Regions from separate parts of the Homo sapiens genome. Here all the other regions are linked to region 2. The links come from fine-mapping of genetic effects on gene expression. A gene starts in region 2. Each other region holds a variant in brackets. All regions are shown on one strand. Distances are between the middles of the regions.

Evidence for each region. PIP is the estimated chance that this variant, and not a neighbour inherited with it, causes the effect. A credible set is the group of variants that fine-mapping cannot tell apart.
Region 1: its variant is the best candidate, but not a certain one, in a credible set for the expression of VWA8 in monocytes after interferon gamma (Fairfax 2014, PIP 0.56).
Region 3: its variant is the best candidate, but not a certain one, in a credible set for the expression of VWA8 in whole blood (INTERVAL, PIP 0.73).

What each region holds. Positions count from the first base shown.
Region 1 is chr13:41,984,044-41,990,469 of GRCh38, reverse strand. The region is part of intron 2 of LOC105370176 (a long non-coding RNA gene); the gene reads left to right. Among named protein-coding and RNA genes, the nearest start is that of VWA8-AS1, 26 kb to the right of the region's middle. The variant AT/T (reference allele first, on the strand shown) is at 3,195.
Region 2 is chr13:41,958,414-41,964,839 of GRCh38, reverse strand. It overlaps VWA8 (von Willebrand factor A domain containing 8), which reads left to right and starts at 3,731. Exons shown (of 45, transcript NM_015058.2): 1 at 3,731-3,987. The coding sequence starts at 3,825. VWA8-AS1 (VWA8 antisense RNA 1) reads right to left here and starts at 3,671. Exons shown (of 4, transcript NR_039974.1): 1 at 2,606-3,671. RefSeq lists a silencer at 3,652-4,061 and enhancers at 4,262-4,401, 4,497-4,997, 4,998-5,498.
Region 3 is chr13:41,575,771-41,582,196 of GRCh38, reverse strand. It overlaps VWA8 (von Willebrand factor A domain containing 8), which reads left to right. Exons shown (of 45, transcript NM_015058.2): 43 at 6,359-6,426. Among named protein-coding and RNA genes, the nearest start is that of MIR5006, 11 kb to the right of the region's middle. The variant G/T (reference allele first, on the strand shown) is at 3,788.

The DNA.
Region 1 (6,426 bases), 26 kb before region 2:
GAAAATGGAAATGAATTTAGTTAAGTATTTAAAAAATGTTTCTGCCCAGAAATAAAATGAAATCTGTGTTTTTCAGTCCACTAAATAATAGCTTTCCTTTTTCCTTTAGCAGATTTCTATGTCTAGAATTCACATATGATCACTGATTTTAAAAGACACATTTTACTTGCCAAATAGAAGTGAGAAGAAGCACCCTTCTCCCAATGCTTTCCTCGGAGCTGCAGCCACTATGTCTTCGCCAGTCAATGGGGTGGCTGTGTTGGACCTTTTGATGAATGGCCAACCTATTTTTCCAAAGTAGTTGTACCATTTTGCATTCTACCAGTGATGTAAGAAAGTTCTAATTTCTCCACATTCTAGCCAAGACTTGTTACTGTCTTTTTTTTTTTTTTTTTTTGATGGAGTTTCACTCTTGTTGCCCAGGCTGGAGTACAGTGGCACGATCTCGGCTCACTGCAACCTCCACCTCCCGGGTCAAGCAATTCTCCTGCCTCAGCCTCCTGAGTAGCTGGGATTAGAGGCGCCTGCCACCACACCCAGCTAATTTTTTGTATTTTTAGTAGGGATGGGGTTTCGCCACGTTGGGCAGGCTGATCTCAAACTCCTGACCTCAGGTGATCCTCCCACCTTGTCCTCCCAAAGTGCTGGGATTACAGGCAGGAGCCACCGCGCCCGGCCTGTCATCTTTTTTATTATAGCCATTCTACTAATATAAAGTGGTATCTCAATATGGCTTTGATTTACATTTCCCTAATGACTAATGATGTTGAGTGTCTTTTCATGTTTATTGACCTTAGGTCTTTTTTTTGTTTCGGAGAAATGTCAATTCAAGTTCTTTGTCCATTTTTAAATTGGATTTTTTTTTAACCTTAAGTTGTAAGAACTCTTCCTATATTCTGGATGCAAGTATCTTAGTGGACATGGGATTTACAAATATATTCTCCCATCATGTTGGTTGTCTTTTCACTTTCTTACACGTATATTTTAAAGCAAGAATTGAGTATAACTTTACACATCACATTTAAGAGTATCATCATTCATGAATTAGGTGAGGTGGAGAAAAAGTTGAAAGCCATAAAAAATGGCTGATGAGAGTGTCAGTGTTTAACCTGGAAAGGAGAAAAATAAGGAGATATGTACCTCAATATTTAAATATAAAGCACTGCCATGCAGAACAGAGAAGGCATGATATGAGTGACTCCAAAAGGGAAAACTGGTACCAAATGGAAGTTCTAGAGCAGATTTGGATTCAAATTAAGTGATTTTCTTAATCTTAGAGTTTTTTTTTTTTTTAATGAAAGTGAGCTTTCATAAGAGCTCTCTACAATAGAAGCATTCAAGCAAAAACTAAATGCAAAAACCAAATTATATATCTCAACAATGTGGCTGGAGAGAATCTGCACTCTATAGGAAGTTAAACTAGACAATCTCCTGATTTTCCTTCTGTCTAAATTCTTTTTTTTTTTTTTCTTGAGATGAGGTCTCCCTCTGTTGCCCAGGCTAGAGTGCAGTGGTATGATCTCTTCTCACTACAACCTCCACCTCCCAGGTTCAAGCAATTCTCCTGCTTCAGCCTCCCGAGTAGCTGGGATTACAGGCACCCGCCACCATGCCTGGCTAATTGTTGTATTTTTAGAGACGGGGTTTTACCCTGTTGGCCAGGCTGGTCTCAAACTCCTGACCTCAAATGATCCACCCGCCTCGCCGCCCAAAGAGCTGGGATTACAGGCATGAGCCACTACGCCTGGCCCTTCTGTCTAAATTCTATGCTTCTATTACATTACACATTTTCAAAAAAGATAGCGTTGGTCAATATACAAAGTTTTTTTTCACTTAATCAAGCTGTTAGAATTTTGAATAGTCATGTTAAGTTATATTAAAAAGTAACTATTTCAAGGGAAAAAATTGGTAGAAACCATTCTAGAAATACTGCTCTAAACTAACAAAGTATAAAGGTTTTAGTATCCCAGTAAAAACAATGTTACATAACTAATAATGAAGCATTTCATAGTACAACTGTTCCTATCATGTGTTAATAAATAACTCAAACAAAAATAAACATGAATCTTGCCCATTTAACTTCAATTTTTCTCTTTCAGCTATAGAGGTTAGATCCAAATATCTTCATAGAGCAATATTACTCCATTCTCCTTCTGTGGTTATGGCAGGTAGAAGGAAATTGCTAAATTGTTCACACAGCATAATAGCCAGAGAATACAATTTCTAGAAAACATTGGTTAAACTATTTCCTGGCCCATGGTACAGAGAATAAAAGAAAAATTCCTTCAGACACAGAGCTTAATGTAAAGAGCTTGAAGCACAAAAAAAGGCCAGTAAAATCATTGTTCATTTCCCTTAGAAAATATACAAAGCCTAGAAATAAAGTCCAAGAGAAAATTGAACATGAAAAAGAAATCCAAGGATAATTATTCTTACTACTATAAAGCTGGCTTAGCAATAACCACTCAGTCACTTGCTCAGGGCAGCTGAGAATTTACACCAGATGAAGGAATAATAAGGAATTTTGGCTGGGCATGGCAGCTCATGTGTGTAATCCCAGCACTTTGGGAGGCCGAGGCAGGTGGATCACCTGAGGTCAGGTGTTTGAGACCAGCCTGGCCAACATGTTGAAACCCCATCTCTACTAAAAATAAAAAAAATTAGCCGGGCTTAGTGGCAGGCACCTGTAATCCCAGCTACTTGGGAGGCTGAGGCAGGAGAATTGCTTGAACTTGGGAGGCAGAGGTTGCGGTGAGCCAAGATCGCACCATTGCACTCCAGCCTGGGTGACAGAGTGAGAGTCTGTCTCAAAAAAAAAATAAATAAAATACAAAGTAAGGATTTCTGACTATTTTATTCTTATGGGAAGCATTGACTGGTTGAAACAAAAGCAAAAATTAGTAAGTGTTTTAAATTTATTTTCATTTTTGCATAAGAAATATCTGGGGACAGGAAAAAATAAAAATTAAGGGACTCAATAAGAAAGAAAAGAAGATCCAAAAACAGAGTGTGAGCTACTACAGATCATTTCCATGGCTTAGAAGGAGATTCACCATGTATGTTAAAATGCACAACAAAAATAGAAATAGTAAGATGAAGTCAGAAAGAAAAGTTGTCATAATCATGCAAAGTAATTAAAAATAACAGACAAATGCAGCAGTACTCATTACAAATTGATCAGAGGGGAAAAAAAA[AT/T]TTTAAAAAAATACTTACATGTAAGAAAATATTTGTTGTAGGAAATATTGATTTGGAGGAGAAAGCCCAGATAGTAGAAGAAGAGTTACATGAATCAGAAAAGAGCGCAGGCCGGGCGCGGTGGCTCACACCTGTAATCCCAGCACTTTGGGAGGCCAAGGTGGGCGGATCCTCTGGGAGTGACCACTCCTAACCTCTCTCCTTGCCTGCCTCCTTTTGGCAGGGTGTGTCATCAGTTGGGTCCTCAGGGAAGCAGACGTAGGAAGTTGAGAGTGCAAAAGATTTACTGGAGAATAAGACCTCTTATTCCCACCTCTTATCCCACCTCCAGTGGGAATAAAAGGGAAGAGCTGGGATTGGCTAGGAGAGCCATCTTACTGAGATGCAGACCTAACAAAGTCTCTTCTGCCCAGCAGGAACTCCAGATCAAAGCTTGTCTTGAGAGGAGCCCACCTTTGGGCAGAAAGGGCTAGACCCTTGGACCACAGTCTTTCTTAGTCATGGGCTAAGGCTACCTAGAGAAGAGAAGGAAGTGCATGACCTTGACTCAAAAGCTGAGGTGGACCTGCAGAACTGAATAGTTGGAGGTTGTCAGCTAACCATATTCCTCGTAGCTGGGCATGAGTCTTCCTTAGCTGGAGTTCTGAATGCTACACATTCCCATGTCTGCCACACAGTTCAATGCCTCTAGGTATTCACTCCAAATCATCAGACATGCCTCAGCATCACTTTGCCCCACCATTTCAGCCAAACTGACCCCCGACCCAAAAGAAGAAAGTCTGAGGCCTGATTTTTGTATCCTCAAGTCTTCCTCCAATACTGACCTCTCCCTCTCCCCACGATGACTCACCATGAGAATGTCCATGCCATTCAGAGGAAACCCTAATGCCACCCACAGAGGGTGCATGGCCTACAGCCCTCATAAAACAATTACACAAAATTCTAATACTGATATATTCCTCAAACATGAGTTGTTCTGTTTTGAGAAGTACCACATGTGGCATATCAACAGCTAATCCAAAGGGCAGTCTGCCAAACTCAGTAAAGATGCTTATCAGTCTCTTCTTTTCAAAGGGGTCATAACCTAGTTGCATCCAGTGATGCCTTATTAGATGTAAATGGGCTTTGAGAGTCCCTTTCTATGTCAATGCAAGAAATTATCCATATAGTGCCAAATATTTATGGGTGTATGAAAACATTCTTGACTGAATTTCTCACTTTTCTTTTAAATAGAACTATCATGTACTTTCAAATAGTGAGTAATCAGCAGGAACAAGCCAAAGTTTAAAGAAGAGAGCATTTAAAGCACTTCCTGATTTTCTTCTTCATAGTGTATATATTTAATATGGTTAGTACTGGGCTCAAAGACAGATTTTTTTCCCGAAAAGTTAATTGTAAGACATTTGTTTGGAACTCAGTCCATATTCCCATTGAAATAATGACACTTTACTTTTCTGGGTGAAGGTAAAGTTCAAGTACCTGGAACTGTAAGAAGTTACCTTTTCTTCTACTATAAAATATACTTAGAGATATAATGCATAGCAACACATTTTTAAGTAAACGGATTATTCACCTCCCTTCACAATACTATTCAACATGGTTACTTAAAATATAAAAAAGACCCAACAATGGAAACAGAAGCTGTCATAAAGGAGGAGGGGACCAAGGGCTTGGAGGATGGATATGAAAAATAAGGCTGAATAAGTTTCCCCACTTCTCATTTTCAATTTTGATTTTTCTGTTTTTCACCATTTCTTAGTTTCCCCAGTCCCTCTCAATTGCCTTACAAGCACACAACCAGGCTGGCGGACATGGTGGAAAGAGCAGTAATGAAAATTTCCCTGCTTTTTTCTCTTCCTCTTTCCTCGTTTCTTCCAGTTCCATCTCTCCTCTCCATTTTTTCCTCTGTTATTTCCCTCTATCCTCTCTCCCTCTTTTCTCTCAAATGCCTTTTCTATTCTTCCCTGAGCCATATGCCCCATCATTCCTTATGTGATATTGTTTTGGTCTTTAAATTCCTCCCTAGTTTCTTAAATTCCCCCCATCCCATGGCCATTGCCTGGATTCAGGCTCTCACAATCTCTCACCTGCAGCCCAAATGTTTCTCTCTGCCTGTACCCTTATGCCTCCCATCCATTCTCCATGCTATAAGTAAGATAAATCTAATCATGTTACTCTCCTAATTGAGGAACCCAATATTTGGGGGGATTAAATTTAAATTCCCTTTATTTGGCTCCTATCTCCTTTCGAGCCTCATCTCTTTGCCAGCCCTCCATCCATTCCATCTGACTGATTCCTTCCTAGATCTTCAGCCTGGGTTGAGGTCTCCTTCAGCGTTCCCTCAGCATATAGCTTTAACTTAGCATTTTTAGTAACTTTCTTCCATTTCTCTAGACTCTGAGCACCTTGAAAGCAGACATTAAATCTTTTTTCTGTAGCACAATTCTGCAGAATTAGGAAGTCCACTCCCTTACCAGTTTTGGGCACAGTGACAAGTAGAGAGAGTCCCTGCTAGAACGAGGCAGGAACTGACCAGGAGTGATGAGGGGTAAGAAACAAGAGCACATGTGAAAGAGATGTGCCGTTCTGGGTAGCAGAGGCTCTGCATTAGCACAAGGGAGAGGGATCCCAAGTCAGGAGGAAAATTCTTAGCCGATGCAAAAAAGGGACACTTTTACAGCAGCATCATTAGAGCTCAGGCAAGAGAAATGAGCTAAGCTGGGCACAACTAAACCAGGAACTTTCTATACGCTTGTTTAATATATCACAACATAAACAAAAACAAATACTAAAAATCAGTGTCATGGTTCTAATGCTTTAGTTTTGTGAGTGCCATTAGAAATGACTGCTAAATATATAATTTGCTCTAAAAAATCTTGGCAATTCAATTTTTGTGAAGGAAACTTCATCTAATACTTGGCTAATTTAAATATATTTTATATATAATATATACATATGTATATATCATATATGTAATGATATACATATACTATGTATATATTATATATATATGATGTACATTCTGAAACAAATCCTGCCGAATAATGGTTAACAAGCAGTATAAATTAAGAATCCCTTTTACATTGGGAGGGCTGCCTTCAATCTACAAAGCCTTTCCTCCCAGCTAACCCAGCTAACCCAGAAGAACAGGGGTAGAGAAGAGGGAGACCATGCTGTTTTGAACATACCATGTTTGAAAGACCTGTAGAAGAACCAGATAGAGCTGCTAAT
Region 2 (6,426 bases):
TTTGTATTTTTAGTAGAAATGGGGTTTCTCCATGTTAGCTAGGCTGGTCTCGAACTCCTGACCTCAGGTGATCCGCCCGCCTCGGCCTCCCAAAGTGTTGGGATTACAGGCGTGAGCCACTGCACCTGGCTGTGATTTTCCTTTTTCCCTCCCTCTCTATAAAGAACAGTTGTACAGCTTCATGACTGAAATGTGTGGCACATGGGTGATCTCCTATAGGTATTACTAAAGATGAATATTCTTGGGCCCTTTCAGACCTATTGACTCAGAATCTCTGGGTGCAGGGAGGAACGAAACCCTATAATCTGCATTTTAATAAGTTCTCCAGGTAATTAGGATGCACACAAAAGTCTGGGAACCAGTGGTATGAACCTTTGATTTCTTAGCTGGGGTAGACAGTAGGGAGGAGTGGAGCACCCACCTTTTTTCAGTCAGACATAGCATGGAAGGATTATTAGTTGCATTTTTCATCAAGTTACATTAATGTGGTATGTAAAAAATATTCCTCCCAAACTCTGGAAAGAGCTTGACAGTCAATACTAGCTTTTGGTAGTGTGATTTTCTTTTTTCTTTTTTTTTTTTTTTTTGAGACAGAGTCTCACTCTGTTGCCCGGGCTGGAATGCACTGGTGCGATCTCAGCTCACTGCAACCTCTGCTTCCCGGGTTCAAGCGATTCTCCTGCCCCTGCCTCCCGAGTAGCTGGGATTACAGGCACCCACCATCACGCCTGGCTAATTTTTGTATTTTTAGTAGAGATGGGGTATTGCCATGTTGGCCAGGCTGGTCTCAACTCCTGACCTCAGGTGATCCACCCATCTCAGCCTCCCAAAGTGCTGGGATTATAGGTTTGAGCCACTGTGCCCGGCTGGTAGCTTGTTTTTTAATAAGCATGTGATCAGATATTTTAGTGAGAGTTTGAGAGACTTTACACAGATTGTGATGAACATCTTTTAAAACAAAACACCTTTGGTTCTTCTTTAAAAACATTGTGAAGGTCCATTCTTTCCCATTCAGTCTCATTGCCATCAGCACTGTTCATCATTTCAAGTAGAGACTATTTTTACTGCCACGTAGCTAGCACTTGATGCTTCCTGTCTTCCTAATTCAATTCATAGTATGTCACCACCTAAAACACGATCAAAAAGTCCAGTAGCTGCCCAGTTTGCTCATCGGATGAAGTCCAACTTCATCCAGCTACTCAAGATTCTTCACTCTGTAACCTTCTCCTCCTGCTCTGCCAACACCTTCTACTACTTTCGAAAGATTAACCTCCTCATCTGGCTGGTCTCATGGCCCCTGTAACTGAACTCTGTCAGGACTCCAAGCCTCTACTTAGGCTCTATACCCCGCTTCTCTGTGTATCCAGTCCTAAATGGCATTCAAAGTTAAGCTCAGGTGCTGCCTTTTCTCAGGCTCAAAGTTTTCCTCCCCATTGTAGCTTTGTCACTCTAAAAAACCTTCACCATTTTTCCATTTCCTGGAGGTTAATGTGCAAACTCCTTCTCTTGGCATACAACATGGCCCCAGATTCTCTTTCTGGTCTTATTCTTACAAACTGTTGTATATACTTGACCTCTAGACACACTGAATCACTCTCTGGTTCTCAATCATGCCCTGCACTTTCAGCTGTTTCTTTCTCTCTCTCTCTGTACATGATCTGTCTGCCAGATTTGACTTGTCTCAGCCTGACAAACTCTTGTATAATATATCCTACATGAATCATTTCAAACACTACCTTCTCTGTGAAGACTCCAGGTGCAGCAATCCACTCCACAGTATGTTGAACCTAAATCTCTTGACACGTGTCTCACTGTATTGCAATTCTTTATTTGCATATTTATCATCAATACCTAATGTGAGCCCATTGATTCACAGTATCTAGCAGGGTACTGTTTATACAGCAGTTACTCAATAAATGTTGTCGTTGGGAGGCTGAGGCAGGAGGATCACTTGAGGCCAGGAGCTTGAGACCAGCCTGGGCAACATAACAAGACTCCACTGCTACGAAAACAAAAACACAAAAATTAGCCAGGCACAGTGGTGCACGCCTGTAGTCTCAGCTACTAGGGAGGCTGAAGCAGGAGGATCACTCGAGCCCAGGAGTTCGAGGTTGCAATGAGCTATAATACTGCCGCTGCACCCCAGCCTGGGCAACAGAGTGAGACTTTGTCTCTAAAAAAAATAAAACTAGGCAAAAAATGTTGTTGAATGCTCTAACTTGTGTTGATCTCTCCATTGTCTTAACTCCAAGAGCTCTTAGTGCTTATATCAACCACTTTGCAAAATTGCCTTAGGTTGTTCTCCCATTCTTTCAGGTGTCTACTGAGTTCCAGCGAGATTAAATGGAGATATCTTGACCAAGGTATTCAATTCTTCTAGCCTCAGTTTCTTCATCTGTAAAACGGAGGATAATAATAGTACCTCAAAGCATTTTTATGTGAAATGGGATAATTCATTAAAATCTTGATACATACAATGTGCTCAAAGTAGGAAAAGCATTTTATAAGCTTACATCCTAAATTTATGTCTTAGGGTTGCTATGAGGATTAAATGAGAAGATACACATGAAACGAAGTCATAATATATTGTGTAACTACTTATTACCTTTATTTTCACTGTCTCCTCATCTAGGTTAGAAGCCTGGTTCAGCCTTCATTCCTCAAGTTCTTCCGCTGGATGCCCAAAGCCTTCCTTACCTAGCCTTGTTTGACTTTTACAGTCTCCACTCTAACACTCTCTTCTCAGCACTCATCACAGGGTCAGGCGCAGGGTAGGTGCTATGTATTTAGACAGTGGCAGCTCTAGAATTAGCAAGGTCTTTAGCTGAAAGTGAGGTCTTCTGCCTTCTTTTTGATGTTTGCTTGTATAACTTGTCTCAAATATTTTGCCTTAGTCAATTCACTGTGACATTTTGGGGATGCAGTCTAATTACATTAGGCTTAGTTTGCTTTGTGGTAGGACCATTTCCGATGTTGGAATGTACAAGAGGGAGGCAGCCTTAGCCAGTGTCCTACTTTTTCCTTTACTAAAGACATAAATCATCTTTATATAACTTTTGTATTACAGCATGACTAGAAAAGTGCTTGATCTGGATCCTTTCTGATATTTAAGCAATTTCCATCTATCACTAAGATGTGAATTTTTTCCTTAGAATTTAGGAAGCGGTAATAAAACACAGAAACAAACAACCACCACCAAAAGGACAAAGGGTAAAGCTTTCACGTACGGTTTGGAAACACTAGTGTGGTTACAATGAATCAAGACAGTTGTGAAAGTTCCCATCATCTTGTGCATGTTTTCTCCATTTCCGAAATCTGAAGCCGAATACAGGGAAAGCTCCCTATACTTACTGGGCCTTTAACTAAGAAACGAAGACTTGGGGCAAGCATCTGAAGAGTCACACCGACAAATGCTCCTAAAACCCTTGGCATTTACTGAACTCCTGAGATTCTGTGGGATCGCAGGGAAACGGCGGGTGAAGGCCTGGTGCATCCAGGTGAACAGACAGTCTCACGGACTGCGAGGCGCTTGCCAGAGCCCAGCGCCGCAGCTCGGAGCACCCCCGCGGTGCGGGCAGTCCCGGGACGGTGCCGGCTCTTTGGGCTGGAGCTCCGCAGGCTCTTTCCGCCCGTCTGGGCCATGCAGGGCCGGGTAGGGCCGGGCTGAGTCTACTGAGCCGGCCGCGCCGCGGGGGAAGGAGTTTCCGGCGGACTCGGCTAGGTGCCGCTTCCTGTCCCCTTCTCCGCGCTGCCTCACGGTGCCTGCACGGGACGCCGCTCGATCCCCGAGCCCCCTCGCCGTCCCCGACAGCCCCCCCGGCGCCATGCAATCCCGGCTTCTACTCCTCGGGGCACCCGGAGGCCACGGCGGCCCGGCCTCGCGGCGCATGCGGCTGCTCCTGCGGCAGGTGGTGCAGCGCAGGCCGGGTGGCGACAGGCAGCGGCCGGAGGTCAGACTGTTGCACGCCGGCTCGGGGGCCGACACAGGTAACTCGGGGTGCGCCCCTGTCCTCCCTGGTGCCCCTGCGCTCCGTGCCGGGTCCCCGCGCGCCCCCGCCCCTCCTCTCTGTTGCTTCGCTGCGCTTGGAAGGACCGTTTGCCGAGCGGGGAGCTGAAAGATTGAGGTTCTAGTCCCGACCTCGGCGCTAACTGCTGTGTAACGTGGGGGCAAGGCGCTCGCCCTCTCTGTGCCTGATTCTGCAACCCGAGGGGTCTGGACTAAGGTTTCTGATGACCTAGAAGAGTGATTTCTCCTTCCCCTGCCGCTGCCTTTACCCCCAGAATTCTGACTTAGGTTATAATACTCGTAGAGGTTAATGCCTCAGCCCTATGGAATTATTGAAAGCTGGATTTGACCTTGCTCTCTGAGCCTCAAGGGCCTGGAAGCCGGTCTGTGTCATGTTCTAGCCAGGGCTTGTGGCGGCTTAGAAGGGAACATTCTTGCCAAAGAACCCATAGTTCACGGTGTTTTAAATGCATCCCCGAGCCTTTCCAAGTTTTACAGGAGTTTTCCTTAAAGTTTCACGTAATTCTTAGAGCTGACAGTTACACCTTAATTTAGTTAAAACACTTGCCTCTACAAATGAGGTAATTGAAACCCAGAAGGGAAAAGTGATTCGCTGGAGAACACACAACTAATTACTATGCTAGAATCACATGCTTTGATTTCTAAGCTCAGTATTTTTTGGCTCTACTTGAGCTGGTTTTAGGAATTCTTTTTCTTGTGTGTTGGTGGAGTTAGAGTTACTGTGATGGTTAAGGAAAGGATATCTGTTGTTGCTACCCTTGAATGGTGAAGTGATTCCAGACAAGATTTTGTCAATGTCAGTGCTGCTTGGAATAACAGGTTTTCACTATGAAATTGTAGGTTTCGTTGTCCTCTTGCATTTTCCCCGCAACCCCCAGTTTTCCTTGCTAAGAAATGAGCATATGGGCCGGGCGCGGTGGCTCACGCCTGTAATCCCAGCACTTTGGGAGGCTGAGGCGGGCGGATCACGGGGTCAGGAGATCGAGACCATCCTGGCTAACACGGTGAAACCCCCGTGTCTACTAAAAAGAAAATACAGAAAAATTAGCCGGGCGTGGTGGCGGGCGCCAGTAATCCCAGCTACTCCGGAGGCTGAGGCAGAAGAATGGCGTGAACCCGGGAGGCGGAGCTTGGAGTGACCGGAGCCACTGCACTCCGGCCTGGGCGACAGAGCAAGACTCCATCTCAAAAAAAAAAAAAAAAAAAGCATATTTAGGTCCCACGTATTTCGTTTTATTCATTGAAGACATACACCACCCCCGTCCCCCACCATAGTGTTGCAATTTCAAATTTTACTTTTTGTTTTTTTTTTTTTTTTTGCTTTTTCTCAATTACTCTCACTTCTGGGCTGTTTATTCATTTGTTTTTTACATTTTTTGTGTGTTCTTTATTTGTTTTTTGCTCCTTTGCCCTAGAAGGCAGAGGTCAAAGGTGGAAGTATAGCATAAACTATAGGTTGGGTTTTGGAGTTAAACAATTTGGGTTGGAATCCACTTATCCACTATCTAACCATGGGTCGTTGAGGGTAGGTTACTTAACTTTGTGTCCTAGTTTTCTTAACTGTAAAAGGATAAGAAGAATATATCTATTATGGTTGTTGTGAGGATTTATTAATTAATATAATCTGTGGCACATATTAATGCTCAATAAAAGTTAGCTTTTTTATTCTTAGTATGTACAGTTTTAGCTATTTGAGAATTATTCTGTTTCCTTGCCTTTAGAAGACATGAAACCAAGTTTGTTTAGATTCAGGACTGTTCAGACTATCTGGGTAGGCAGATTTAGCCGAGTGAATTGACTTGAACTTTTTAAAAAACAATTGTTCTTTGTACATGGATAATACATGTTGATTGTAAAAACACATGTGGGTGTGAGTTTTTAAAGTCTGTATTATATACGTATTGGTAGATAAGTTGTAAATGTCCTCAAATTTTGTTATAGCCAGTAAATCAAAGTATAGGCTTTGCTTCAAATGTGAGAGTCATGGACATATTACAGAGAACATACTATCTTCTTTAAATCAGTCATTTACTCTGGCAGGATCAGACCAAAAAGAGGTATTTTTTGAGGGTGTGAGAACTGTAACTGAATGCAGCTGGGAACCCACCAGAGATCTGGACTTGAGTAAGAGCAGTTGTGAGCCAGGTAAATGGACAGCACACTTTTGGCTACTCTGAGGCCTGAGAGTAAGGCTATCAAGATGGAAGTGTCCCATTTTGAATCAGAGATCATACATGGACAAGTGTAAAACTACAAATAGCAATAGGCCATAATGGATTACATCTTATGTTGGGATGATGCTCTCAGCTGCATTCATACATGTGACCAGTAACTGATTATCTCCTCTCTCTGTAATTGACATTGCTTCCTAATAGTTTGAAAAAAGAACAACAAAGTTC
Region 3 (6,426 bases), 380 kb after region 2:
CAGTGGCAAGACACATCTCTAAGCCATTTGGAGTGTTTAAAGTTTCTCATAATTGCTCCACCAACTGAATTCAGCTATTCCCGGGAATAGCATTCACAGTAGGTCACTGAAGACTAGCGCAACATCATTTGCTTATAATCAGCATAAGCTCCTCTACTCTTGTAGTCAGCATCATTCTTAGTGTTCATGTAGTGCTTCAAATTAAAGTGAAAAGTAGAATAGTACTGTTTTTGTGAACCGTTGTCTTTTCATCAAGAAGCATTTTTTTCCTTAACCTTCATTCCAATTTGTTCCTCATGCTTTCTCCAAGCTCCTGGGAATGTTTTCACTGTAATCTTGAAATACACCTCCTTTTCAAAGGCTCTTAATGGCTTAATTTTTTTTCAAAGTACTCAATAATACCAAAGTTAGGTAACTATTTCTCCACTAAGCACTCAAATAGTGGGACCAGAAAAGAGATTTATTTCATTATTCAGAAGTTGCACTTGGAAAAAAAAAAAGAAACTTAAACGTATTGTTTCTGTGAAGGCATATAAACCATATCCTAGGGCAGTGGTTTTCTAACAGTGTAACAAGAACCTTTGAAGGATGTTTGGCAGTGGAGGGGGGCAGTGAGTAGGCAGCACTTTGTGCCCCATTGCCCTCCATCCCCAATTCAACTACAACAATTTCACATGTATAGATAATGCAGGATGTTTCATAAGCTGGGCTTTTGTGCAGTATTTCATTTGAAGGAAGGGTTCCACTGCTAACAAATTTTTAAAGGAAAGGAAGAATTAGAAAGCCATTGTGTTAGGGATTATGTAATGTACTGGATTATTATTTCTCACAGGCTCTGAGGGCTTTCTTTCTGGAAAAGGTGCCATTGACCCTCTGATTTAGATGACTCACTCTCGGCCGGGCGCGGTGGCTCACGCCTGTAATCCCAGCACTTTGGGAGGCCGAGGCGGGCGGATCACGAGGTCAGGAGATCGAGACCATCCTGGGTAACACGGTGAAACCCCGTCTCTACTAAAAAAATACAAAAAATTAGCCGGGCGAGGTGGCGGGCGCCTGTAGTCCCAGCTACTCCGGAGGCTGAGGCAGGAGAATGGCGTGAACTCCAGGGGGCGGAGCCTGCAGTGAGCCGAGATTGCGCCACTGCACTCCAGCCTGGACGACAGCGAGACTCCGTCTCAAAAAAAAATAAAATAAAATAAAATAAAATAAAATAAAATAGATGACTCACTCTCCCTTGACAGAAGAAAACAAGGCATTAGGTGTTCCTAAAACTAAGAGAAGCAGGCTTTCTCATTACAATTCTTAAACATACCATTAAGTTTATATAGAATTTGGGGGGTAGGAATGGCCTTGGAAATTATTTTCACCAACCTTTTTGTTTTACAGAAGAGAAAACAAAGATTCAAAGAGGTTCAATGCTTTGCCCAAGGTCACACCGTTACAGTGCAAAGCCAGCACTTCTGACTTCCACTTCAGGGCTCTTAGTTGATGTTTCATCCCTGTTTCTTATAGCTGTTTTATCTCTGTTCAATTTGATTTTTTTAAACTGTAATTCAGGAGCAAGTGTATCATTTATGTAAGGTACTCTGTCTTCTCCTACCCTTGGCACCTCACCATCCAAGGGAGGTATAATAGACAAACTTTTCTCAAAGATACCTTGATCAGAAAGGCTGAGTTAACTCCCAGGAGAAAGTGGAAACATATGACTCACAAATCAGCACCTGCCAGGGAAATTTCTTCTATCAAGAAGTTAATTCAGTATCTGCAATTAATCTCTTTCCAGTACCTCAAGAATGTTTCACAGGTTTAGAAATGGAGATCAGTCATCCTATCAGTTTAGGCTGTGAATAAATTCTTATTGCTACATGGAGATTGGACCAAAGGAGGTCGTACATACTTTTCTGAGTCCCTTCAAACAAGAATTCAGAATTGATTCAATTGTGGATGTAGAAATATTGGCCAACCCAACCATTCAAAAACAAGTAGAGATGGGAGGGGAGCGTAGCTGGGGAAGTAGTTATTTCTCTGTAGTAAAAACACTGGGCCGGGCACAGTGGTTCATGCCTATAATTCCAGCACTTTGGGAGGCCAGGGCGGGTTTATTGCTTGAGCCCAGGAGTTCAAAACCAGCATGTGCAATGTAGCAAGACCCTGTCTCTACAAAAAAAAAAAAAATACAAAAATTAGCCAGGTGTGGCGGCGCATGCCTGTGGTCCCAGCTACTCAGGAGGCTGAAATGAGAGGATTACTTGAGCCCAGGAGGTTGAGGCTGCAGTGAGCTGTGATCGTACCAGTGCATTCCAGTCTGGCCAATGAGCAAGACCCTGTCTCAAAAGAAAATCAAAAAATAAAAACAACCAAAATGGATTTAGTGTCAGAAAACCTGGGGTTTAACCAACACCCTTAAGGAAGTCTGTTAGTCTCTCTAAGAATCAATTTCTGCATTTGTGACATAAGGATAACACCCCAAAACTTGTAGAGAAAATCAAAATGAGATGAGATATATGGAAGCCCTTTGTAAACTGTAACAAACTATAAAGTCAGTAAGTGTATTGTCCTATCCTTTCAATGACCCTGGGAGGTGGTAAGACAGATATTACCCCATGTTGTCAGAGAGGTTAAGTGATTAACAAGCATACAGTGTTAGAGACTTTCTAAGCCATCATTGTTTACAAGGTAGAAACAAGGTTTAGAGAGGTTAAGTGATTTTTCTCTAAGTCAAAAAGCTTGTTAACGTCAGAGCCTAGAATCCTTGACCTTTCAGTACATTATTCTTTTCACGTTGACTTACATGATCTGAAGAAAGGTTAGCCAGCTAATGCTATAGGTTATTACGTAACTAACACTAGGGTTCCGCTGGCATTTCTCTTGACTTTTTAAATCACATATTTATCTTCTGATCCTGTGTAGCCCGTAGTTAGTGGCACACAGGAGAATGAGAATGGTGTATTTATATTTCTAGAAGGACATGAGAATTTTACACCTAGTAGTTTTAATAAATAGCCTTAGATGATTGTCTCGTACCTACTTACAATGTGGCCGCATAATAAAGCATAGCATCTCCTAAAGCCAGCAAATGGTTGTCCGTCCTAATAGAAATTTACACATAAATCTTATTCATAAAATTGCTAATAGCACTTTGTCCTATGCATTCTAAACATTATAAATCATTCTTATTTGATGATAAACCACATCTTTGACCAAAATTTCAGCATTTGTTTTTGTTTGTTATACTTTTCTCTAAATGAACAACACTTCCAAAAGAAAATATAGCAAAAGGGCATTTAAACAGATTTCTAAAGCAAAAAAGTATTTAAATTGGTCCTCTGCAGTTGAGGCTTTTCTTTACTACTGTGGCTTAATATTTATGTTAAATGCTAAATGTGAGACTGCACAGGGTTTTCAGGAATGCTCTGAAAAGTGCAGAAATCATGATCATAAAAATTTTGAGCTCAGAAAAAATTCTGATCTAAATGTTAGGCGGTTTGATAATGACAGTGAGGATCTTGTTTATTGACTCCTGTAGCTCCTCCATGGAAGCATGCTCGAGGCCCTGTCAAGTTGGATTTCACGATCATCGTAGAAACCAGATCAGGTGAATGGCAGATTTAGGAGTTAGCAAATGGAAATGAATGAGAGTATGCATCTTTTCCATTAACCCACACAATTTTCAGGATTAGCAAATCACTGTTGGTAAACCATGTTGGAATCCTTGGATAGCAGATACTAGATAATTTTGATGGAGGAGTATTGCTGGTAATGGAAGCTTAATATAATCTGCAGTAAC[G/T]CCAGGGAATGGTCCACATTTGGATGTACTTTAGATTCCTCCCAAGCGTTTTATTGGCTTTGGTCACAGAATAATCCTCAAACCCATCTGGAAGATGAGAAACCAGGGCCTGCAAACTATTTTATAAGCTCCATCCTGTCACTTAGGTGTCTTTGCAAGCCTTTGCAGTACTCACCAGGCACAGACAAAGGCTGGTCTTTCCTTACCCAAATAAGAGATGAGAAAGAAAAAGGAAGGGAAAAAAAGAAGAAAGAAAGGGAAGAGGGAAGAAGGAAGAAAAAGAAGCATACAGTCCACCTTTCTTTGTCTCATTTGCCTAGAAAAGTATAGTATGTTTTTTTTCTCCTAGGCATATATTTAAATGGTAGATAGATATATCAGTCACACAATCAAATGATAGATGGATGGTTGCTAAAGTATTTCTGAAGGTTTTAATCAGCCAGTATCTTGTTTTACTAAAGACCAGCTAAAAACTGTATTTGTTGACTGCTCTTTGACCAGTTACATTGACCCTGTGACAGACCATATGATCAAAGATTTCTATAGTTTCATTCACTATCATCTAATTAGAAAGAACTCTAGCCATCAGTTAAAAGGGAGGGAAAAGTCAAACACATTCATAGCCCTCTTACCTCAGCCCAATATAAGAAACCTAGTTCCGTGTCAGGGAACTGATCTTATTCCCTCATGTGTAAGATCCTGTTTAGCAGATTACTTCACCAGCCCATAATGAAAGCAACCTGCCTGGCACTTTCTCAGGAGAACTTTCCCCTCTTGACTACAAACAGTTCCTGCCATGACCGTTGTCAAATCAGTCGGGGCCTCCCTGGAGTGTGCTTCCATGGAAGGATTATGCAAGCTCTCTCCACATCTGTGCCAATCCTACCACTGAACCCATGGATGACTTTAGTCAAGCCTATGCCGAAGCCAGAAATTTCCTATCCTGAGCAATTTCTAACAGCTGAGCTCAGCTGCTTTTAGTTTCAGTTTTTATTTGGTACCTTTTCACTCTATTGATAGCAAACTATACTAAGAATAATTTTTTTTTCTTATATGGAATGTGTTACATCATTGGAAATCATTTACTGTCAACCTTTTTAATGCATTGATAAATTTCCTTCGCTATTCTTTTATATTTAAACCAGGCACAGAATAATCTCCCACCATCTCACCCCCACCCATGGCCCCACTCTGGCCCTCCTCTGACCATGACCCTCCCATGAGGTGAGGTGTCTATGGGGCCAAAGGGCCTTTAAAGCCTGTTTTTAGATCATGCTCCTGGTACCTGGGATCCCCAACTATTCTCATCAAATGACCCCAAGCCTGCTTCCAAATCCTGCGTGGGCCTCTTTCCTAAGTCCATCTTCCTAGGACAGACTGGCCAATTGTGTGAGCACCCCAAGGTGCTCAGAGGGTGGGCAGAGGGTAACTGTTGTTTATGATGGAGCGATGGAGTGTGGATGTCAGCACTGGGTGTCCACACACATGCATTTGAGGTACCTCATGGGGTGGGCCAGAGCCAACTATGAAAAGAGAAGGGTATGGGCTATGGGCCAGGGGCCATTACTGTCCATGTGACCATGTTCTAGCACAGAACTTCCAGGAACCCAAGTATTTGAAATTTGGCCCTGGCTTTCCAGGTTATTATAACGTATATTTTATCAAAGTGGGAGGACAGAACATGTTTTATTTAACAGTTGGTAGCCTGATGTATATCTTTTACATATTTAGACATAATATATGGGCCTCCATTTATTCCCTCCTGGGGATAACTGTTAGGTCTTCACCCCTAGCCACATCTCTCCCCCAGGACACAAGTTCAGCATATCTATAATGGGACTCATCTTCCCTAGGAAACCCTTCTTCTCACTTCCTATTTTTGCATAACAATTTCAACCAAATTTTTTCTGTTTCTTTCCATTTAAAACACAGCAGTTTCAGTTATGTTATGGATTGTTGTTTGTCAGCTAGCATGGACTAACCACCATTTATCCCATGATTGTTGAGGGGGAAAAATGCATTCCAGCTTCAAACAGCTTATTTGTAGGAGAATGTAGCCCACATGCAAGGGAAAAGCTTCTTATTGCCCCAACTTGATTGCAAACTCTCTTACAGCATTTGTGCAATAAACATGCTAGGCACTCTCTTAGATTCTAGAAATTCAAAGAGAAATAAGCTGTGGCCTCACCTTCAAATAACTCACCATTTTAAAAGGAACATACATGAAAAGAAATAACTGCATTGCTCTACAACACAAGAGTATGTGTAACTCAAAGTTGGAGGGAACTACCTCACCCCAATTATAGTTTACCTCAGACCCCAGACTTTTTTTCCAGACTCTGTGAAAAGGTTGCACTTGACTCCCAGCTCTAGCCTTTCTCAGTAGACAAGAGTTTCTCATGTACATAGTGAGATTAGAGAATTAAACACACTTCTGTCTCACTGCATTTCTTTATGGCCATATGTTGAGCAACTTTGGACAATAATGGTCCAAAGAGTTGAACATTAAAGATCTAATGACTGTTCTTTTGTGGAGAAAAGTTTATAACTTTCTGGTTCTCTTGCATGTAGTATGACATCGTTGGACACTCTGGAGATGGCTACAACATTGGTCTGGTTCCAATGAACAAAATCCCCAA